Homo sapiens: one gene and its partners. The protein of the gene in region 4 purifies or fractionates together with the protein of the main gene of each other region. This does not show direct contact. Each region holds a gene or a part of one and is shown on either strand. Other genes may lie near its edges.

The links.
Region 1: the proteins of NECAB1 (region 4) and KANSL2 purify together in Homo sapiens (affinity purification with mass spectrometry; 2 studies listed by BioGRID and IntAct, with this or other methods). This does not show direct contact.
Region 2: the proteins of NECAB1 (region 4) and RNF138 purify together in Homo sapiens (affinity purification with mass spectrometry; 2 studies listed by BioGRID and IntAct, with this or other methods). This does not show direct contact.
Region 3: the proteins of NECAB1 (region 4) and CCDC6 purify together in Homo sapiens (affinity purification with mass spectrometry; 2 studies listed by BioGRID and IntAct, with this or other methods). This does not show direct contact.

The regions. Positions count from the first base shown.
Region 1 is NC_000012.12:48,665,002-48,672,755, forward strand, and holds part of KANSL2 (KAT8 regulatory NSL complex subunit 2), read right to left. Parts: intron 6,962-7,754; coding exon 6,798-6,961; intron 4,272-6,797; coding exon 4,105-4,271; intron 2,789-4,104; coding exon 2,692-2,788; intron 2,593-2,691; exon of another isoform or gene 2,456-2,592; intron 1-2,455. UniProt on the Homo sapiens protein: Non-catalytic component of the NSL histone acetyltransferase complex, a multiprotein complex that mediates histone H4 acetylation at 'Lys-5'- and 'Lys-8' (H4K5ac and H4K8ac) at transcription start sites and promotes transcription initiation.
Region 2 is NC_000018.10:32,094,358-32,102,111, reverse strand, and holds part of RNF138 (E3 ubiquitin-protein ligase RNF138), read right to left. Parts: intron 7,609-7,754; exon of another isoform or gene 7,506-7,608; intron 1-7,505. UniProt on the Homo sapiens protein: E3 ubiquitin-protein ligase involved in DNA damage response by promoting DNA resection and homologous recombination.
Region 3 is NC_000010.11:59,787,493-59,791,556, forward strand, and holds the end of CCDC6 (coiled-coil domain-containing protein 6), read right to left. Parts: 3' UTR 1,255-4,064; downstream 1-1,254.
Region 4 is NC_000008.11:90,955,202-90,960,074, reverse strand, and holds the end of NECAB1 (N-terminal EF-hand calcium-binding protein 1), read right to left. Parts: intron 4,589-4,873; coding exon 4,563-4,588; coding exon of another isoform or gene 4,507-4,562; 3' UTR 1,069-4,506; coding exon of another isoform or gene 1,045-1,068; 3' UTR 682-1,044; downstream 1-681. Other genes in the region: uncharacterized protein C8orf88, read left to right, coding at 1,045-1,068.

The DNA of each region.
Region 1 (7,754 bases), on a different chromosome or scaffold from region 4:
TAGGACTACAGTCACATGCCATCGTGACCAGATAATTTTTCTTTCTTCTTTTTCTTTAGAGATGAGGTCTTACTGTATTGTCCAGGCTGTAAGCATTTATCTTTAGAGTTTTTCATTACTTTGCACAACCATTTTATATATTAAGAACAATAATCTCTTATCAGACATCTGTTGTAATTAATAAATTAGTAAAATATTTAATAAGCAAAATAAAAATCAGCTTCCTGTCAAAAGACTAAGAAGAGGTTCTCCTTCTCCTCTCCCTATTAAAGAAAATAAGTGGCCGGGCGCTGTGGCTCATGCCTGTAATCCCAGCACTTTGGGAGGCCAAGGCAGGCAGATCACAAGGTCAGGAGATCGAGACCATCCTGGCTAACACGGTGAAACCCCATCTCTACTAAAAATACAAAAATTAGCTGGGCACGGTGGCAGGCACCTGCAATCCCAGCTACTTGGGAGGCTGAGGCAGGAGAATCGCTTGTACCCAGGGGAGTGGAGGATGCAGCAAGCTGAGATCACGGTACTGCACTCCAGCCTGGGTGACAGAGTCAGATTCTGTCTCAAAAAAAACAAATAAAGAAAATAAGTTTTAATTTCCAAATATTTGGCATTTCTTGCCAAGCAAATGAAATCCAGCAATCCTATTTAATTAACAAGTGCTTTTACTGCGAAATTTTTCTCAATGCCTATAATAAATAAGCACTTTCACAATTCAATCAACAACTCAAAAAAGTTTGAAGGCCCAATGCCAAATGTAGTCCTTTAACAGAATCAAGAGACATTATGATGGTTCAAAGGCAAATTAATTGAAAAGAAGAAAAAAAGCATCTCATTTTTGGAAATAGCAAACTTCTAATTTGAATGATGTTTAAAGTATGCAAGTTAGAGGCCAGGCACAGTGACTAAGTGTTATCACAAAAGAGTCAAGAGACTGGGCATGGTGGCTCACAACTGTAATCCTAGCACTTTGGGAGGCTGAGGCGGGAGGATCACATGAGCTCAGAAGTTCGAGACCAGCCTGGGAAACATAGTGACACAACCTCTCTACAAAAATTAAATAAAATTAGCTGGACGTGGTAGCACATGCCTGTAGTCCCAGCTACTCTGGTGGCTGAGGTGGGAAGATCGTTTAAGCCCAGCAGATCACGGCAGTAAGCCATCATCATGCCACTGCACTCCAACTTGGGCAACAGAGTAAGACTCTGTCTCAAAAAAATTAAAAAAAGAAAACTTTTTAAAGAGCCAAGTTTCTTTTTTAAGTTTATAAAGGCCAGGTACAGTGGCTGATGACTGTAAGCCCAGCATTTGGGGAGGAAAGGACTGGCAGACTGCTTAAGCCCAGCAGTTTGAGACCAGCCTGGGCAACATATTGAAAATTGACTCTACAAAAAATAAAAAAAAAAAAAATAGGCCAGGTGCAGTGGCTCATGCCTGTAATCCCAACACTTTGGGAGGCCGAGGCAGGCAGATCACTTGAGGTCAGGAATTTGAGACCAACCTGGCCAACATGGTGAAACCCCATCTCTACTAAAAATACAAAAATTAGCCAGGCGTGGTGGCACGTGCCTGTAATCCCAGCTACTCAGGAGGATGACACACAAGAATTGCTTGAACCCAGGAGGTGGAAGTTGCAGTGAGCCGAGATCACACCACTGCACTCCAGCCTGGGCGACACAGCGAGACTCTGCCTCAAAAAATATAATTAATAATAAAATAAAATAAATAATTAGCCAGGCATGGTGGCACACATACATAGTCCCAGCTATTCAGAAGGCTGAGGTAGGAGAATTGCTTGACCCAGGAGTTAAGGCTGCAGTGAGCTATGACTGAGCCACTGCACTCCAGCCTGGATAACAGTGTGAGACCCTGTCTCAAAAAACACAAATAAAAAAATAAAAGCCGGGCACAGTGGCTTACTCCTGTAATCCCAGCATTCTGGGAAGCCAAGGCGGGTGGATCACCTGAGGTCAGGAGCTCGAGACCAGCCTGGCCAACATGGTGAAACCCCATCTCTACTAATAATACAAACATTAGCCAGGTATTGTGGTACGTGCCTATAATCCCAGCTACTCGGAGAATCGCTTGAACTCGGGAGGCGGAGGGTGCAGTGAGGTGGAGGTTGCAGTGAGCCGAGATCACGCCATTGCACTCCAGCCTGGGAGACTAGAGCAAAACTCCATCTCCAAAAAATAAAAAATAAAATAAAATACAGAAGTGAGGGCCCTAACCACACAAAAGGATAATACTAGAAGTTCACAGTGCAAAATCATCCTTTCAACTGGGGTGGAAAACCCACAGTAATTTTTTAAGTTTATAATTAGATTTAACAGCATTAGGATCCTAATAAGCAAGTTAAATCAGAAACCTTGAGACAATTACAAATATTTTATGTATATTTTGGGACCCAAGTATTAAGGCTATAAATAAATATTAGCCCACATCTATGAAAAACGACTCATGTTTCTTTCTAATGAATTGACCATTACATTTCCAAAGTTATGAAATGGCCAACAGACCATAGAAAGACAATTCTTTAGGCTCCTGCTTGAAACCAACAGCTTCAGCAAACTGCTGGCCTTGATTCAGGGCCAAAGGAAAACAAAATCCTTCAATTAAGCAAACTAGCACAGAGATTCCCACTAGTCTTCAAACTAGCAAACCACAGCCTTAACAGGCAGAGTAAAAAGATACGGGTAAGGCAGTGTCTGGTCATTGGAAGAGACTGATTGGAACAACGAACATCATCCACAAAGGCCAAGCACCTCTGACTGGAACGAGTGGTATGGGCCTGAAATGGAAAAAGACAGATAAAATAGACCCACAAAAGAACACACAAACAATTACGATGAAAATAGTTATATAAGAAAAGCACATCCTAAAGGCTAGAAATTCAACATTTAACAAAAATAGATTCACCAATATTATGCAAAAGACAAAAAACTTTAAAACCTAGTGCATAAAGAATGAGTCAACCTCAATCCCAAATACACCTCTCCATATTCTAAAAGTGTGATATAGCCTATTTAACACAAATTTTGTCTTTTACCAACAGAACTCTGAAATTGCAGCCTTAAGTGGAATCTCAACAAATGAAACAAAATTACTCTTACTGAAACAGAGACCAAGGGTCTGAAAAACAAATTTAAGAATGATCACTTAATTCTTCTTCCTATTAACCTTACTTCCTGACATTCAATTGCTCCTATTCTACCTTCCCACCTTTTAAAACAAGATTCCCAAGCAATTTAGGATTAACCTGTGCTTATTTCTGAACTGAAGAATATCTGAACCAAGGACTTAGAAACTTTTCCCAACTACTCAATATGCAGATGAGAATACTGAGGCCCAGAAAATTTAAGCTAACTGTGCAGACACAGAGCTGGTCAGTGGGGACTCACACTAGAATCCATGTCTCCTGACTTCAAGCTAAGTGCTTTCACTATAACCCATGTGCAAAAAGTCAGATTTCAGATCCAAGACTGGACATAGGGAGTTCAAGACCAGCCTGACCAACATGGAGAAACCCCGTCTCTACTAAAAATACAAAATCAGCCAGACATGGTGGCACATGCCTGTAATCCTAGCTACTCAGGAGGCTGAGGGAGGAGAATCACTTGAACCCAGGAGGTGGATGCTGCGGTGAGCCAAGACGGCGCCATTGCACTCCAGCCTGGGCAACAAGATTGAAACTCTGTCTCAAAAAAAGACTGGACATAGTGTTTTGACAATTACTCTAACTTTGTAAATAAAGTGAACATGAACAGGCACGGTGGCTCATGTCTGCAATCCCAACACTTTGGGAGGCCGAGGTGGGTAGATCACGAGGTCAGGCATTGGAGACCAGCCTGGCCAACATAGTGAAACCCCAAAAAATACAAAAACATTAGCTGGGCGCATGGTGGTGGGCACCTGTAATCCCAGCTACTCGGGAGGCTGAGGCAGGAGAATTGCTTGAAACTGGGAGGCAGAGGTTGAGAGATCTCAGTGAGCCGACATCGCACCACTGCACTCCAGCCCGAGTGACAGTGCGAGACTCCGTCTCGAAAAAATAAAAACAATAAATAAAGTGAACGTATATACCTTAAAGGTATACACACAAATTACCTGTTGGGCAGCACCATCTGTGGCCAGCATTCTCCGTTCCTTCAACTGCCTATGCAGTAAGGCTTCCACTCCATAGCGCTGGCGGTATCGTCGCAGACATTTTAATCGCTTTAAGTTCTCTCGTTCTTTGGCCAAAAGTCCCTCTGGGCCAGTCAGGAGACTACTGCCTAGAGTTACAAGAGTCAAGATGTTATTTGCCAAGCAATCCATCAAGGTTACGTCTCCAAGTCAACAAGTAAACAGGAAAATCCTTGGGCATAAGATAGGCAGTTTCAAAAGCAAATGACCCCCAATCCAGGTACCAAGACAGAAATAAATCTAATTATAGTCATGCACTATATAACCACTTTTTAATCAATCATTGACCATACATACTATGGTGGTCCCATAAGATTATAACAAAGCTGGAAAAAAAATTTTTTTTTTTTTTGAGGCACAGTCTCGCTCTGTTGTCCAGGCTGGAGTGCAGTGGCGCAATCTTGGCTCACTGCAAGCTCCGCCCCCCAGGTTCACGCCATTCTCCTGCCTCAGCCTCCTGAGTAGCTGGGACTACAGGTGCCCGCCACCACGCCCGGCTAATTTTTTTTTTGTATTTTTAGTAGAGACAGGGTTTCATTGTGGTCTCGATCTCCTGACCTCATGATCCGCCTGCCTTGGCCTCCCAAAGTGCTGGGATTACAGGCATGAGCCACCGCACCCGGCCAAAGCTGAAAAATTCTTATTGCCTAGTGACATCATAGTTCAACCCACACATTTGTGGTGATGCTGGTGACCAAACCTACTGCACTGCCAGTTATATACAAGTCTAGCACAGGCTGGACACAGTGGCTCACACCTGTAATCCCAGCACTTTTTGGGAGCCCAAGGCGGGCAGATCACCAGATCAGGAGATTGAGAACATCCTGGCCAACATGGTGAAACCCCATCTCTACTAAAAATACAAAAATTAGCTGGGCGTGGTGGCATGCGCCTATAGTCCCAGTTACTCAGGAGGCTGAGGCAGGAGAATCGCTTGAACCCGGGAGGTGGAGGTTGCAGTGAGCCAAGATCACACACTGCACTCCAGCCTGGCGACAGAGTGAGACTATATCACAAAAAAAAAAAAAAAAATCTAGCACCTACAATTATGCACAGTACCTAATACTCGATAATAAACAACTATGTTACTGGTTTATATATTTACTATATTTATCCTTAGAATGTACTCCACTCTATTTATTAAAAAAAAAAAGTTAAATGTAAAACAGCCTCAGGCAGTTCTCTCAGAAAGTATTGCAGAAGACATTGTTATCATGAGATGACAGTTCGCTGCATGAGATTGTCCCCGAAGACCTTCCACTGGGACAAGATGTGGAGGTGAAAGACAGTGACACTAGGCCCATGTAGGCCTAGGCTAATGTACGTGTTTGCATCTTAGTTTTTAACAGAAGTTTAAAAGGATTTTTTTTTAATTAAAACTAGAAAAGCTTATAGGGATATAAAAAAAATTTTTGTACAGCTGTACAGTGTTTGTGTTTTAAGCTAAGTGTTATTACAGAGTCCAGAAGTTTTTCTTAAAAATTTTTTTAAGTTTATAAAGGCCAGGTGCAGTGGCTCATGCCTGTAATCAATCCCAGCACTTTGGGAAGCCACGGTCGGAGGATCACTTGAGCCCAGGAGTTCAAGACTAACCTGGGCAACATAGCGAGACCCTGTCTCTACAAAAATTTAAAAATTAGCTGAGTGTGGTGGTGCATCTGTAGTCCTAGTTACTCAGGAGGCTGAGGCAGGATAGCCTGAGTCCAGGAGTTGAAGGCTGCAGTGAGTGAGGACTACGCTACTGCACTCTGGCCTCAGTGACACAGCAAGATTCTGTCTCTTTAAAAAAAAGCTTATAGGCCAGGCGCAGTGGCTCATGCCTGAAATCCCAGCACTTTGGGAGGCCAAGGTAGGGGGATCACTTGAAGTCAGGAGTTCCGAGAGCAGCCTGGCCAACATGGCAAAACCCCCCCTCTACTAAAAATAAAAAAATTAGCCGGGCATGGTGGAATGTGCCTGTAATCCCAGCTACTTGGGAGGCTGAGGTGGGAGAACTGCTTGAACCTAGGAAGCAGAGGTTGCAGTGAGCTGAGATCATGCCACTGCACTCCAGCCTGGGCAACAGAGTGAGACTCCATGTCCGTCTCAATTAAAAAAAAAAAAAAATGAAAGTAAAAAAGTTACAGTAAGCTAAGGGTTAATTTATTATTGAAGAAACTTTTTTTATAAATTTAGTACAGCTTAAGTGTACAGTACTTATAACGTCTAAAGTAGTAAATAATAATGTGCTAGGCCTTCCCATTGACTCACCACTCACTCACTCGCCCAAAATAACTTCCAGTCCTACAAGCTCCATTCATGCTAAGTGCCCATTTTTAAAATCTTTTATGCCATAATTTAACTGTACCTTTTCTCTGTTTAGATGTGTTTAGGTACACAAATACCACTGTTACAACTGCCCACAGTATTCAGTACAGTAACATGCTTGTACAGGTTTGCAGCCTAGGTATGTTGCAGGCTATACCACCTACGTTAGCGTGAGTCACTCCATGAAGTTTGAATGACAAAAATCACCTAACAAAGTATGTATCCCCATCATTAAGTGACACATGACTGTACTACCAAATTCACATGTTAAACCCACAACAGCTTGTTGGAACTGGCATAAAACTTGCCTAGAGCTTCATGTTCCACTTTGCGATTATGTAAGTATCGGCGCTTCTTCTCCTTGAGCAGATGCTGAAGTCGTTTAAACTGATCAATATACAACGACTGCAAACGAATTAGCTTTTCACGCATAATCAGGGCCACTTCTTCTGCTGTGTAGACACCAGCATGTCTGGAATAAAACAGAATTCAGCAAAGCATAAGAAAACAATAATAATAAAACCCAAGTTTGAAAGAGTAGAGATGTCAGACTAAGTTTGTTATTTAACAAGTGGTGACATAATCACCTTAATGTTTTTGCAAAACATTGTACCATTCAAGTTGTTATTAAATAAAACAAAAGAGAAAATCTCCAAGAAAGAATACTAATCTGTGATTTCCCAAAATGGGGGAAGGAGAAATGTCTTATTTTTCCCAGCTATTTGCATTATGTTGAAAAGAAAGTGAACATGCGGAACACTTTAAACTTTTATTAATCTACATTCTTAATGTTTTGATATGAAATCATCACTTACCAGTCAAGACAGCTTTAAAGTGTTCAATTAACATGTATCTTTCACATATACATATATACATGTATATATACGTATATATATATACATGTATATATATATATACGTATATATATATATATATATATATATTTTTTTTTTGAGATAAGGTCTCACTCTTGTCACCCAGGATGGAGTGCAGTGGTGCAATCAATCACAGCTCACTATAACCTTTGCTTCCTGGGCTCAAGCGATCCTCCCACGTCAGCCTGCCGAGTAGCTGGGACTACAGGTGTGCACCACCCCACTTGGTTAATTTTTGTATTTTTTGTAGAGATGGGATTTCACCATGTTGTCCAGGCTTGAACCCCTGGGTTTAAGCGATGCTCCCGCCTCAGCCTCACAAAGTGCTGGAATTAAACGCATAAGCTACTGCACCTGGCAATATATTTTAATTAAAGCACTAAAGATACC
Region 2 (7,754 bases), on a different chromosome or scaffold from region 4:
CAGGAGTTTGAGGCCATTCTGGGTAACACAGCGAGACCTCCTCTCTACTGAAGAAAAAAAAAAAAAAATCAGCCAGGCATGGTGGTGCACGCCTGTAGTCCCAGCTACTTGGGAGGCTGAGGTGGGAGGATCGCTTAAGCCTAGGAGGTTGAGGCTGCAGTAAGCCGTGATTATGCCCCTGCACTCCAGCCTGGGCAACAGAGTTAGACCCTGTCTCAAACAAGCAAAAATGTAATATGGAAAAATGCATGCAGCCTTGCTAGCAACTAAAGAAATACATTTTAATGTGACTTCTAGACACCACTATGAACTGTATTAAAATAGCATAAAAATGCTTAAAAAAACAAAATTGGCAAAGATGATGGATTACAAATATACTTTTATAGTACTAATGGCATTTTGTAAATTAGCTCAATTTTTGGGAAAGCAACATGACATTTATGAAAATAGCAGTTAACACTTATTGCGTACATAATATGTGCTAGGTGCTAGGCTGGATCCCAGAAACTATCCATTCATGATCTTGAATTCTTAAAAAAAAATAAATTTTTCTTAATAAGTTCCTTCATTTTACAGATGAGGAAACTAAGGCTTAAAAAAATAAAATGTTAATAAACCTGTAAGAGTGAGGCAGGCAAATCACTTGAGGTCAGGAGTTCAAGACCAATCTGGCCAACATGGTGAAACCCTGACTCTAATTTAAAAATATATATATATACACAAAAATTAGCCAGGAGTGGTGGTGCACGCCTGTAATCCCAGCTACTCAGAAGACTGAGGTAGAAGAATGGCTTGAACCTAGGAGGCGGAGGTTACAGTGAGCCAAGACTGCGTGTGCCACTGCACTCCAGCCTGGACAACAGAGCCAGACTCTGTCTTTGAAAAAAAAAAAAAAAAGAAACCTATAAGAGGTTGAAGCCCAGAAGATGTTTCTGTCATTCAAATACAAAGCCCTGCATGTTCCCTCCTACCTCGGGACCTTTGTCCAGAATGTTTCTTCTCCCCAGAATGTTCTATGCACGAGCACAGCCCTCCACAAATTAATACCTATATCTCTCTTAGATATCAGCAACAATATCACTTCCTAAAGAAAGGGTCATCGATACTCACCCACTAGATCTGATCCCTCTCTTATACTCTCTCGAAACCTATACATTTGTAATTACACCATTTTTCTGAGCATTTATTTTAATTTAAATATATCTCAGGCCAGGCGCAGTGGCTCAGGCCTGTGATCCCAGCACTCTGGGAGGCCAAGGCGAGCAGATCGCTTGAGCTCAGGCATTCGAGACCAGCCCGGCCAACATGGTGAAACCCAGTCTATACAAAAAATACAGGCCGGGCGCGGGGGCTCACGCCTGTAATCCCAACACTTTGGTAGGCCGAGGTGGGTGGATCACCTGAGGTTGGGAGTTCGAGACCAGCCTGACCAACATGGTGAAACCCCCGTCTCTATTAAAAATACAAAATTAGCCAGGCCTGGTGGCGCATGCCTTTAATCCCAGCTACTTGGGAGGCTGAGGCAGGAAAATCGCTTAAACCCGGGAGACGGAGGTTGCAGTGAGCCGAGATCGCGCCATTGCACTCCAGCCTGGCCAACAAGAGCAAAACTCCGTCTCAAAAAAAAAAAAAAAAAAAAAAAAGTTAGTTGGGTGTGGTGGTGGCACATGCCTGTAGTCCCAGCTACTGGGAAGGCTAAAGGGGGATTACTTGAGCCCAGAGAGGTCAAGGCTGCAGTGAGCCATGATCATGCCACTGCACTCTAGCCTGGGCAACAGAGCAACAGAGAAAGACCCTGTCTCAAATATATATATAAAATAATAAAATAGAGGTATTCAGGTCTCTTATGTCCAATTTTACTGTTCCTTCCCCTGTACAACCAAAGATTTTATATATATATATATATATATCTCAATCACTAACACCCAGCTCCAAGAGGGCAGGGATCCTATCTATTTGCTCTTTACAATATCCCTGGCACCTAACAGTGCTAGGCACCTATTAGGCAGTCCTAATATTTGCTAAAGCAATGAATGCCAATTTACCTTAATTTAAAAAGTATTAAATCCCTTAACCAAAAGATATAATTGACAGTTCTCAAATCAAAACCTTGAGCACTTTCCATGAACAAGACACTTCACTAGAGCTGCAATTATTCTTGTGTGATGTATCAGAAATATTTGTTTGTATCTACCCTTTGACCCAGCAATTCCATTTGTCAGAATTTAGCTGGCAGGAAAAACTCTCATATGTGAAACGATATATTAGTAGGCTTAAGTAAGTAACAGGAGATCTTGGATGCTTTCTTTATAAAGCTTGCAGCCTAACCAGTGAAACTGACATTGGTCAAATTATCTGATTCCAAAAATGTTATGATTACAAACTGTGATAACAGGTACAAAGAATGGCCGGGTGCAGTGGCTCACACCTGTAATCCTAGCACTTTGGGAGGCCGAGGCGGGGCAGATCATTTGGGGTCAGGAGTTGGAGACCAGCCTGACCAACATGGTGCAACACCATCTCTACTAAAAATACAAAAAAATTAGCCGGGTATAGTGGTGCATGCCTGTAGTTCCAGCTACACGGGAGATTGGGGCAGGAGAATCTCTTGAACCCAATGGGTGGAGGTTGCGGTGAGCCAAGACTGCACCACTGCACTCCAGTCTGGGCAACAGAGCGAGATTTTGTCTAAAAATAAAATAAAATAGAGATATTCAGGTCTCTTATCTCCAATTTTACTGTTCCTTCCTCTGTACAACCAAGCATGTTTCTTCAGACATAAAACGAATTATTCTCATCTCACTTTGGGCTGGAATGGATCAAAGTGCTAGACAGAACTTATTTCAAAACAAAGCAGAAGTAGGAAGGAAAAAGGTACAAATCAAGAATTACTAAAACTAATTTTCATGTTCCTGAAAAGGCCCGTATCTTCAGAACAGGGCATTACCCTATAACCAAAAAAGGTCTCTTTACATTTCTCTCAACTTTAAACTAGCAGATGCTAGACGAATTTCCATTACGCATTCTCCCAACAAAAGGCTAATCAACAACACTGGGAGAGGAAAAACAATATTCCCACTCATCATGCTCCCAATTTCAGTATAAATTAAATAATTTAAAATCTGGCACTTAGTCTATCTATTTTCCGAGTCGATAATCGAGATCATTCCCCAAAAAAACTTCAAAAAAAAAAAAAATCAAAGGTTGTAAACTAGTCCTCAAGATTTAAAATTAAGTAAATCTTTTTTTTTTTTTTTTTGAAACGGAGTCTCACTCTGTCGCCCGGGCTGGAGTGCAGTGGCACCATCTCAGCTCACTGCAAGCTCCACCTCCCGGGTTCATGCCATTCTCCTGCCTCAGCCTCCCGAACAGCTGGGATTACAGGCGCCTGCCGCCACACCCGGCTAATTTTTTTGTATTTTTAGTAGAGACAGGGTTTCACTGTGTTAGCCAGGATGGTCTCGATCTCCTGACCTTGTGATCCGCCTGCCTCGGCCTCCCAAAGTGCTGGGATGACAGGCGTGAGCCACTGCGCCCGGCCTCAACCTTTATTATATAATTAAATAGCACAGATTTTAGGAAAGAAGAAAATTATTTTAAAGTATATACTTAGAGCATAACTACTCAAGTAACAAGATACCAATAAAGCTGTTAAAATTACAAAGCCAGGTGCTGTGGCACTCACCTGTAGTCCCCACTACTCAGGAGGCTCAGGTGGGAGGACTGCTTGAGACCAGGAGTTTGAGACCAGCCTGAGCAACAAAGCAAGACCCCATCTCTAAAAAATTTAAACTATAAGAAATATATTGTGGGCGCAGTGGCTCACACCTGTAATCCTAGCACTTTGGGAGGCCAAGGCAAGAGGATCACTTGAGGTCAGGAGTTCAAAACCAGCCTGGAGTTCAAAACCAGCCTGGCCAACATGGTAAAACCCTGTCTCTACTAAAAATACAAAAAATTAGCAGGGCGTGATGGTGCACGCCTGTAATCCCAACTACTTGGGAGGCTGAGGGAGTAGAATCGCTTGAACCAGGGAGGTGGGAGGTTGCAGTGAGCCAAGACCGCACCACTGCAATCCAGCCTGGGCAACACAGTGAGACTGTCTCAAAACAAACAAACAAACAAACAAAAATAACACACACACACACACACACACACACACACACATATATACATACACATATACACACACACACACAAATACACATACATACACATATACATACACATATATACATATATATAGCCCGAGCAACAGAGTGAGACCCTGTTTCTAAATTAATTAATTAGGCCGAGGATAGTGGCTCATGCCTATAATCCCAGCACTTTCGGAGGCCAAGGCGGGCAGATCACTTGAGCGCAGGGGTTCGAGACCAGCCTGGCCAATATAGTGAAACCTCATCTCTACTAAAAATACAAAAAAACAAAAAACAAAAATTAGCCGAGCATGGTGGTGCATGCCTGTAGTCCAGCTACTTGTTGTGCCTGTAGTCCCAGCTACTCAGGAGGACGAGGCAGGAGAATCGCTTAAATCCAGGAGGTGGAGGTTACAGTAAACCAAGATCCCACCACTGCACTCCAGCCTGGGCAACAGAGACTCGGTCTCAAAAATAAATAATTAATTTAAAATTGTTTTAAAATTAAGGATTAAAAAAAGTAAATATGAACTAAAAACTCAGGAACTGGATGTTCAAGCTGGTCAAATAGGAAATTACACAAATTTGTGCTTAACAAGAAGTAGAAGTTCATTTTAAAAGATGCCTCCTTACAGAGAGGCCTAAAAGCAAAAACAGATTAGATTTCCATTTTTAAGAGTTCAGCAAAGAATCAAACTTGTTATATGTAATTTTTATTGCAATAGTAGCTTACTTCTGCCATGTACAAGAATTATTTCCTTGACTGTTCAAAACAAGGAAGAACAGAGGTTTCCAAGAGCCTTTGAAGATTACAGAATAAAACACCAAAAGAGATAAACACCTTACTCCTACGCCAGTCTGTACTTTCTTCTGAAGCCTTGCTTTGACTACCTGCTCAACTTTCATATTAATTTGTCTTAACATGTTTTTCAAAATATTACATCTGCCAGGTGTGGAGGCTCTTGCCTGTAATCCCAGCACTTTGGGAGGCTGAGGCAGGAGGACGGTTTGCACCCAGGAGTTAGAGACTAGGTTGGGCAACAAAGCAAGACCCATCTCTACAAAAAAATTTTTTTTAATAGCCAGGCATGGTGGTGAGTGCCTGTAGTCCCAGCTAGCTACTTGGGAGGTTGAGGTGGGAAGATTTCTTGAGCCTGGGAGGTCGAGGCTGCAGTAAGCTATGATCATGCCACTGCACTCCTCGCAACAGAGCGAGACCCTATTTCAAAAAAAACAAAAACAAAAACAAAATTACATCTGACCACTCTAAGGCCTCTGAAAATGCTGACTGCTTCCTTAACAATCATTTGCAGATGATCTGAATCCTCAGTTTCCACTCTCACTTTATTCCTGGTTTTCTTCCTATCCTTCTGTTCGTTCCTTGTCTGGCTGCAATTTTCTCCACTCGATATTTAAGTAAGTATTCTCCAACACTTGGCTCTATCTAGGTGCTCTTCAATCTTTCCATTTATATACCTCACTCGGTGACCACTTCGACACCCACAGCTTTAGCTCCATGTATTCCAGATCTACATATGGTATACACACTTAACTACTGAACCCAGTCATCAAATCTTACACTGTCCTTAAAATGTCAGGAGTCTCTCTGCTCCATTCCTACTATCATTTCCTTAGTTCAGGTTCTAATCATTTCTCTCCCTGACACATCAATGAATGACCGACCTCTTCACTAGTCTCACCACTACCAAGCTGAAAACCCTGCTATGAAGGTAAACTTTCTAAAAATGAAATGTGACCACGCTGCTCCCCTGCCAAAAATTATTTACTAGGTCTAGTATTATTCATTAGGTTATCTAATTATTTAATAGGTTTTCAGGAAAACACTCAAATTAGCTTACACAGTAAGTTCCTGCCAATAACGCTAAGCTCCATCTCCACTACGCTGTCTTTGGCTCCAGCCAAACTTCAAAGTCCAGCTCACATTCATCCTCTGTACCCTCCTTGACTCTGGCATTCCCCACAAACACTGAATACAAACGCTGACCTAAGGCATTACTTCATCTAGGAAATTATCCCTATCCTTTAGGCTAATTTAGATACCTGCTCTAGATGCTCACATAAAATCTCTTCTATATCAATCACACTCATTTATAGGTCTCTCCAGCGGACTATTAAGTCTCCAGAGAAACAGTACTTAGTAGTCCCTGCACCAGACAAAGAGCATTCAACAACTGCAGTTTCAGGGAATGAATGGGGATTAAACGGGAGTTTATATTTTAGTAATGTTATTCTAATGATAATGAACTTGCTCCTTTTACTAGGATAGTCAGTAGTCAAATCCTTTCCTGTCATTGAAATGGCAATTAAAATTTTTCATTTTCTAACTGATCCACAGTAACCCAAAGCCCTTATCACTTCAACTCTCTATTCGTGAATCAAAAATTGATTTTGCAGCCAAATATAAATTTCTTTAAAGGCATAGGTCTGTCCTTTGTGAAGAAGGTAGAGCAAATGACATAGATAACTATGTTAATTAAAAAACAGGTCAGGTGCCATGCCTCACGCCTGTCATCCCAGCACTTTTGGAGGCCAAGACAGGAGGATGACTTCAGCCCAGGAGTTCAAGATCTGACTGGGCAACGTAGTGAGGCCCTGTCTCTATAAAAAAGAAAACAAAATTAGTCAGGCATGGAGGCATGCTCCTGTAGTCCCAGCAACTTGAGAGGCTGAGGCGGGAGGGTTGCTCCAACGGGGGAGGTCAAGGCTGCAATGAAACATGATCACACCACTGCACTCCACCCTGGACAACAGAATAAGACCATGTCTCAAAAAAAAACGATAATTTTTAAAATTTCTCTCCAATTCCCCCACTAAACTCCTTCCAACTGATTAAAATCCTGTTCCTCCATTACCACCTCTTCCAAATTAAACTTTTTTTCTCCCTCTGCCTATTCTTTTAATTCATTGTTCAGGCAGAACTGTCTACGTACAATAAGTTGATTTGAGAAAGGTCCTGAATTAAAAACAATCATCTCCAACATTTTCCACAGTCTTGAGGTCAAATCAAATTATAAACCTTGATTTAAAATGTCCCACAAGGGAAGCGGACTAGAGCAATCTACACGGAATTTTGGGGAGTGCTAAAAACTACAATGAGGCCCATTAGGTCAATGACCCAAAGGATAATTAGAATGATTCTATCCAAAAAAGACCTGCTTTATATATATATATATAGTTAGCAGCTATTACAACTTCCTCTCACCTTGCTCTCCTCCCTCCCTTTTATCTACCCAATGCCAACACAGCACTTAAATTTTTTTTAAATATTGGAAAGGGACCAAGTTATGCTAGATTAAAGGTGGAAGATCTATATTGTGCCCTAGACACCTCCAAACGTTTTTTTTTTCATGTCAGATGGGTAATGTGCTGACCCTGTAACAAGGTTTGAGGATGGCATATCTCACACATGCCTGTGAACACTCAATCATCACACTATGAACCGCAAAAGGATCCCTCAAAACATTTCCCTAAGAATCTGCATTTGTTGCACAAAATAACAAGATGTCATTCATCTCCCTTAAAGAGCAAAAGCGTAACTGGCATAATTTCTATCATGAAAATCCACACACTCTTGGCTCACACAACCAGCACAAAATA
Region 3 (4,064 bases), on a different chromosome or scaffold from region 4:
AATGGGTTCTTGAAAACTATACTCCCAAGAGGATCCCACTGAGTACTGTGCATTTCTTCCACAGAATGTGGACTCTAACTACTATGGGCTTACGAAAATGCAACTGACAAACCATATACCCCCAAGCATGTGTAAAACATTACCCCAAATACTCATTCATTGGATGGATGTGGAAGAGACTAGTCCACGTCTGATTTTGTGTGTGAAGGACTATACTGTACCATCCATCAATTTTCTTATTTTAGCCAGGCACATAAATAACATTTTTATTTTACAGGTAAGGAACTTGAGTCCCAGAAAAGTTAAGTAACTATCCCAGGAAAATAATTGGTACTCAAACCTAGAATTGATCCCAAAGCCATGCTTCCAACAAAGTAGAGAAAAAAAACACCAAACAGGTGGATTGAAACTTTAAAGCTCACGAAACATCCCAAATGTGACATCCAAATCCTGTACATAAATATTTGTATGTAACATTTTGGAAATGGGCATGGTTTTCCTTTTCATAACCTCAGGTTTACTGCTTTAAACTGAAATACAACACAAATACAGAGCAGTGCACAAATCGTTAAGTGTACGGTTTCATGAATTTTCAAAACCTCAACACATCCAAGCAGCCAGCACTCTGATTAAGAAACAAAACTAGCCAGGCATGGTGGCTCACGCCTGTAATCCCAGCACTTTAAGAGGCTGAGGCAGGTGGATCACCTGAGGTCAGGAGTTTGAGACCGGCCTGGTCAATGTGGCAAAACCCCGTCTCTACTAAAAATACAAAAATTAACTTGTATTGGCGTGTTGGCACATACCTGTAGTCCCAGCTACTTGGGAGGCTGAAGCAGGATAATTGCTTGAACCCAGGAGGTGGAGGTTGCAGTGAGCCAAGATTGCACCACTGCACTCCAGCCTGGGTGGCAGAGTGAGACTCCGTCAAAAACAAATAAGCAAAACTATACCAGCCCTTTTCGTGCCATCATTCCTTATTTTTTTTTGGAGATGGGATCTTCCTTTGACACCCAGGCTGGAGTGCAATGGCGCAATCCTAGCTCACTACAGCCTCGAACTCTCAAGGCTCAAGTGATCCTCCCACCCCAGACTCCTGAGTAGCTGGGACTACAGGCTTGTGTCACTGCACCCAGTTGTTTAAATTTACTTTCTAAGGCAGCCTTTAGAGTTTACAATTTAAGTTAGATGTCTGTCAGAAGCAACAGAGAAACAATGTTTTATTCCCAAAAACCGAAATGAAAAAAGATAGGGTTTAAGGCTCAAGAGGTACATTTTAAAAAATTATCTTTATTTAGGTTTCTGATTCAGCACATGTATCAAAGACTAATCAACATAAAGGAGTAAATAAGACATTAATTGAAAGTCTTACATCTCTCTAAACTCTGACCAAGAATGTCAAGATTGCCACTATTACCAGAACTCCAACCTAGTCAAGTTGTAGACAAGCTATCATGAACAACATACAGTGTGCACAGATATGCAGAGGCAAAAGGCATGCTAGCGCTTGGCTCTCCTCTTTTCCTTGTTGACATCTTTCTGTTGGACAGTCCACTTTCGCTTTCCAGGCTAAGTTCCAAATCAAGTCCAAAGAAGGCTCAGGGGTCAACCTGACCAGATACTCTTCTGGAGGAATGCATTCTTAAACTGTTGTGCCTGCAACTTTGTTTTTGCCAGGATGAAGTTCAGACCGAGATGTACAATACAATCTAGATGACGGTGCAGACTAAGTCAAGAACTAAAGTTGTGCAGTAACCCGAGTTAAGGCATGAATGCAGACACACACATGCACACACACAGCACCCATGCTATCAAGACACAGGATTTTTTCAGTTGCCTCATGAGAGGCAACCTGGGCTTGGCAGTTAATCAGAACTGCTGAGCATTCCAGAAAATGCCCCCCACGACTTTATGCTAACAGCTGTGTGTATGTTTTAATCAAAAAATTAAAGAAGAAAAAAAAACCCTAAAAAACAAAGAAAAAAACAAACAAAAAATCACCAAAAACCTAGAAACCCCTTAATCTCTTACAATGGCTCTTGAGCATGGAACTCATGTAGCAGCATCAATGGCTGGCTCTTTAACAATTTGGAAATAAAAGGTTGTTTTACTATGTATTTCTTTGGTAGTCATCACTACAAAGTTTTCAGTGTTGGTTACCTATAAGACAAGTACTAGACAGAAGATCAAGTTACACAGAAATATTTCTTCTGTACTGATAAGATACAAATATTGAGCTCTCAAAGCACAAGTTACTATGCTTTTTCTTGCCTTATTGGGCATTCTCTAAAAGCAAGGCTTTGTGCAGGAAAAGTTCATGTCTACCTAACAAAGGGTGATACATGTTCTATTTTCCTACAAGTGAACAATTAACAAAAATTCACATTATCAATTATTTCTGGTTGAATTCTGTTAGAAGCCAATTACAAAGGGACAGTAGCACTTGGTGTCAAAGCCACTTTCTGGTCACACATTCATTCCATGGTTGCTAGTCAGTATCTCAGGAGCTCAGAATTTAAAACTCCTTTCAGTCAACGAAGGAGTAAGTTCAATTAAAGGCTTCCACTATCTGCCAAATTTCTAGAATTCTGTCTAGAGTGCTAGCATGCTTGATGAGAGAAAGCAGTTCAGAGCCCAAAGAGGTGTCAGGTATTAGGTAAGTTAATTTGGTTTTGTATAAAAGGCATGGTAATCTGGCAACAGAGTACTTATCCTATTAGCAGCACAGTGGTAGCCAAGGGTCTCTGTCTGCAAGACAGGAAAATGAAGCTACTGAAGCCCCTGTTGCTCCCACCTGCCTGCAGGACGGCTACTGATTTTACAAAGGCCTTCTGGGAGCCAATCCAGGGCTCACCTGGGAGAGTGGGTAACAGAATGGCAGGAACCATGTTCAGCCCCCATGAGAAGTGCCCGACTGAGGGAAGTCAGCTTCCCATAGGTGAGGGGGCTGTTGCCATTATGGGCTCAGAATCTAAATCTTACTGATCCCTAGTAGTAAGACAATTGCCAAGAAATTGTCCTAGCAGGTACTACCCAAGTGTTACAGGCTCTGCATAGGTCCTCAAACACTTTAAAGGACACGAACCATCAAATTCAAAAGAGTAGTGTTTGTTCTATCAGTTCTGAATGTCCACAGGGAGAGGCAACTAGATTTATGTGGAAAAAGTGCTGTTTGAAGGAGCTGTGTTTTATTTCGAAGTGAAATGACTTTGGGAACCAGAACATTTCTGCAGATGTCTGAATATCAAGAACCTATCTCTAAAAGGCATTTATCAGGAAATGTTCGCTCACTCCAAGTGCTTTTTAAAAATTCAACATATGGCAATGTTTTAATTTTTGTGCTTTCAAGAGGTAACTAAATCGATAGGAAGCTGAGGGAAGATCATTCCATTATGGACTTTCTTGTTTGGGTGCAAGACACTATCCACAGCATTGAAATCTATAATCTCATAAAAGATTCTTATAAACATATACCATATTTCTCCTATAAGAAAAACTGAGAACTGTACCATGAAGGCAAAATTTGTTTGCCTACTCTCAGAATTCCTTGGAATGGCAATGTACCAGGAGGGTGAGTGAACTGTTGGTGAAAATTCCGGGTTTGACATGGCCCAGTCTGATCACATCAAAAACCTAAAGCCTCAATGATTAAATGCCAAACTTCTTCCCTGCATCTGAGAACTGTATTATGATTATGTATATTACACATACATTATAAATAAAATTTATATAGACCTACAGTTTCTTCCAAACAATTGAGTGATGTTCTCAGTTTGGGGGTGGAAGCAGGAAGAGGTGAAAAAATCTTATTGTTGCTTTTACTCTCAAGTTCTTAAAACGCTAGTCAAACACTATTATCCAACAAGACTTTTTTTTTTCATTCTGTTAACTCTTAAATATGCATTCGAAGGCAAAAATGGAGGTTTCTATACTGTACAATATTAAATATCTACAATGTCATGGTTCCTTATTTTTAGGAGTGTGTTTAATAAAGAGTTGGCTATTAGAGATGGTTGTCACAAAACATGGACTCTTAAAAATTACTGATAAATTACTTTTCAGTT
Region 4 (4,873 bases):
CCGGTAGTTCGAACTTGGACAAGTCACTTAACCTCATTGAATTGCTGATAAGGATGATAAGTTTTGCAATTGCTGATAAGGATGATAATCTCTGGCTGTTAGGATTAATAAAATAATGCATGAGATTACTGAGTATGATACCTTTCTCTCATTATGCTTTTAGTAAATGATTCCCATTCTTTGTGGTCTCTACTTACATTTGACTGGAATTTAACTTCCTATTAGAGTTTTCGTAAATACCTTTATATAGGTAAAGGCAGCTAGGACTCTTCTGAAATGAGATTCAGAATATAGGTATACTGAGAACAGTTCGAATGGGAGATAAACACTACTACCTTCTATCTCCATTTTTGGTATTCTAATTCTTTGGAATTCATAGTATTTTTTTCCTCAAATTATAATTTTTAAAAAACATTATGTTGTTCATAGTTTATATTAATATTTCTTAAACTCCCTAACTTTAGATCTCTAGCCAATTCTTTTTAAAGTTAATTAAAGCAGGAATTAAAATTTTTTATAATACTTCTCATGCATAAATATTAAATAAGAAAAAATGTACTTGATGTTTCAACTTTCCCACCGGTTCAAAGATCTTTGGGATATGTAATCCATGGTCTGTAAGAATAAATGTAAACTTCAGTGCTATATAAACTATAGTCACTTTTTCATTTGTAGACTTTCCATCTTTAATAACATTTTATTGTGTAAATAAAAGCTTGACATACACTTTTTAAAACAAACTTGTACATTAGAATTCATTTTACTTGTGATTTACACATTAATACATATTTTAAACCTAGGTGCCACAGAAACAGAAGAACAGGTTTGGAATACAATTTAATATATTTTAAAATGAGTTACATATATTTTAAAAACATGAGCCGTTTTGTTATTTGACAGTTCTAGTTACTTTAATAGTTTCTATGGTAACATGCATTTAAATCTGTAAACACCTGGTACGTTCACAGTATTTGGTTTGATAAACTAATTAGTAAAAACTGTATTCAATCAATTGATAAATTAACTTTTTCTTTTATATTACAGGAAAACAACCAAAGTTTTAAGTAGCATTTTAAGAACAGATGAATTTAAGTTTGGACATCTGCAAATGAGGTGGATCTAGCAACAATAACTGTAATGGACTGTGACAATTCAATTTATTCTTAATTTTGATGGTTGGCTATTTGACTTCTCTAAAAATGAGAAAGAGCTATTTTAAAATATAAAGAATTTTCTAATCAGTTTCAGCTTTGCAGGAGGTTTCCTGCATAAATTGGGAAGTAACACTGGAAAGTAGGAATTTGGTTAGTGAAGTGGGAAGACTGTATATTTATAATTTGCATACTACTTGCAATTTTTTGTTTTTCATCACTTGTAATAATGGAATGGAAATGTAAGCTGTAAAGACTCTCAAATATAAAATATTTGCTACAGTGTATATATGGTACATAATTGCTTGTTGCTTTTAAAGTTCCTTCTGTTGTTCTGCTTCCCACTGATTTCATACCAGCTCATGAATGGATCATTACAGTCTCTCCAGAGGCTTAGAATGATTCAGAATGTTCAATGCATAGTTCTCAATAAACAGGAGGCAGAATTTTTAATGGGTATTTCTTTTCAGATATATGATTGGTCTCTAGGTTTTTGATAATAATATGGTCTTAAATTCATAATTACTAGCAGAGATTGATAATTTGGAAACAATGGTAGTGAATGAAACTGAAGTTGAAAAACGGCTGCTACTTATGTCACTAATCAGACCATATGAATAGCAGAAGTTGAGCAATTTCAAAGTAAAACTGATATTTTTATTTCCAAAGGAATTTAGACATTTGAAAATAATTGACATACATTAAGTTTTAATTCGATAATTTCTTATATATGGATGAACAATTTTTGGGTTTAAGCTTTTAATTCCTAGAAATTTTATACATTAAATCTCCTGCAATTTGTCACTCTGGATGTTACTGTTTAAAAAAAAAAAAAAAAAGGGTTTCTTCCAGAAAAATCTGCTGATATATAGGTAAGTAAGTGTAAACTCTCCCTAATTCTATTTCTTAGATCCCTAGGTCTATTGGCAAAAAGTTTGTTTCACTGAATTTTGAACTCCTAAACCAGTACTTTTTTTTTCACTGTTTTTTGAGCTTGTTTCCCAGATTCAAGCTTGTATTCCATGTTACGTTTCCCATCTTGGTCTTTTAGTGACCTCTTTTTTTTATTTTTTAATTTTTTAAATTTTTTTTTATTTTACTACTTTGTTCTTTAGGAAAATGGGGTTTTAAATAGAAAAAAATCTTCGTTAACTATAAACTTATTGTTTACTTTAGGATGAGATATTTATACTTAGGTCCCAGTTTTTTCTTTTTTTTTCTTTTTTCTTTTTCTTTTTCTTTTTTTTTTTGGCCCTACTAGTTTCCTTTTCTACTATAGGTTCCAGTATATATGTGTATGTGAATACACACTCACACACATTCACATACATACAACTCTCACAAACATACACAAAAATACATGTATAATTTGTATAAGAGCTGGGGTCAGAATGACCATATAATTATATTGGTTTGCTTTGTTATTTGCCCGTTCTCAAGTCATTCTAATTCTTGTTTCAGAATATGATAGAGCTTATTCCAGTTTGGAATCTGCAGATCCCTTCCACTTAGTACTGTTAATGAAAACAGAACCCTTTTAACAAGTAATACTACCATGCTACTTTGGAAACTGCCTAGTACCCAAAATATTTGATATGCTTTTTGAGTTGGATACTTAAATGCACCAACCAAAGCAATGTTTTGATTGGCTATAATTTGTATTTTTGAAACCATTTACAACAAACATTCTCAAGAAGAGTTTGTATGTCAAAAGTCATTTAGGTTTTAAAGTCTTTTGATCTTTTCTTACTATATACAATCAGTCTGCAGAGACTGTTATGTGTCTGTTTGCCTTTGTACATATATATAGCTTGTTTGAATAATCATTGTGCATCTCCATTAATGTTGTTCTTTGCTTTGTATATAAATTAAAAGAGTTGACCCAGGTGTTGTTACACAGTGTCTGTCATCCTTAGAGTTGACCAGAGGCACACAAATACACACACACACACACACACACACACACACACACACACACACGTGTGTATGTACAATATATCAAAATTTACTACTTATTTCTAATAGAACTATGAAAGGATTTTAAAATTTTATTTATACTGAATGAGAACTGAGAGTATACAAAGGTATTGGTAAAAGTTGCTGTTTCATGAATTAGTTTGAGAAAATATTTTAGGTCAAATTTATATTTAAGAAATAAAATTTTATTAGTTCAATCTTCCTTTTTTCCTGAGTTTTTCAAAGGGGGAAAAACAGGAAAATTTTACCTTATAATTTTCCTCAAAGACTTATAGTTTCAAAGGAATTTATACTAGAAAATAACATGGCTATACATTTTTATATGTATTGTATTTTCATTAGCAAGGTTTATAACCAGAACAGATTTTTATTATTAAAAATATTTAATTTCTGAGCTTGTTGAGCAGAGTGTAGATAGTATACTATCTACAGATAGTTCTATAGGTAGATAGTTTTAGTCATTCTAGTGTTGAAATTCGAAAACAGATGTCTTCTGTCTAATACTTTCACTACTATTTTATGACTTCCCTAAGATTTTGTGCTTGTTTTATATTTCTTAGTTATTCATTTGGGTTAAAATTTTATTTTTCAAGTATTTTGAAATCATTGTTTACATGCAAATATGTATTTTTCATAAGAAAAGTTAGCTGTCTGTATCGCATACCAAAACTATATAGCATAAAACTTGAACCACATTTTTCCAAACAGTCTCTTCTTTCTTGATATATTTAACTTACATAACAAAGAATTATGATGCTAATAAATGACACAATGTTGCTGTATTACTAAATGGTACTCCAACTTATCACAGGATTGTTCACTTTTGAAAAACCAGTCTATAACCTGATACGTGGATAGAGATTCTATAGGTTACAGCCAAGGTTGTTTGATGCCTATATACTAACTTTTTAACTAATGCAAAGATAGTAGTCATAGGGCTGTGAGTTGGGTTGGGGATGGAGTAGACATTGTTGAAGAATAAACTTCACTCACAGTTACTTAAAAATCACAAAACGCTGATTTAACCCTTTACAGTATACGACAGTTTACAAAATCTGCCCTATGAAGTAATACTCTAAAAGTTTCCACTTTATTTTTTCTTTATCATAACAGATTCATTTTCACAATATTATTCCTTTATGCATATGCTTTTTTCCACATATTAGGATTTTGTCACTAAAAGGTTTTAGGTGAGTTACAATGTAGCAAAGCATTTAGCATTAAATATTGAGAATATTAGTGAACTTTGAAAATTGAGCTAAAATTCACATGAATTGATAAAGTTATAGAATAAGTTTTGAAAGAGTGCACTTAGTAAATATACCAAACAAAAATATACAGTAGATTAACAACCGCAGATAATTTTCTAATTGACGTTTTAGATAAGAACACCTGTTTTGCACTTGGAACCATAAAGAAAATGTCTAGGAACATCTAGTTGTTCAGGATCCACCACGAAGCTGAAAAGAGAAAAATGTTTTCTAAAATAATGAAAATAACTTATAGGGCAAAGAACATTCAAGGTGCAAATTATTTCTAAAGAGACCATTCCCCTTACCTTTAGTCTGCATAATAACTTATCTTTCTAGTCACCATTTCCTGACTATTTGAGGCAAGATTGAACTCTTCCTATGCACTTGTTATTTGTACCATACCTTTTGGCACTTTGTTGCAGTCTAAAATTTTCTGTTCTATGTGAATAGAACTTGTTTTGGCAACAAGTTTATAAATGCACTGAAGACAGA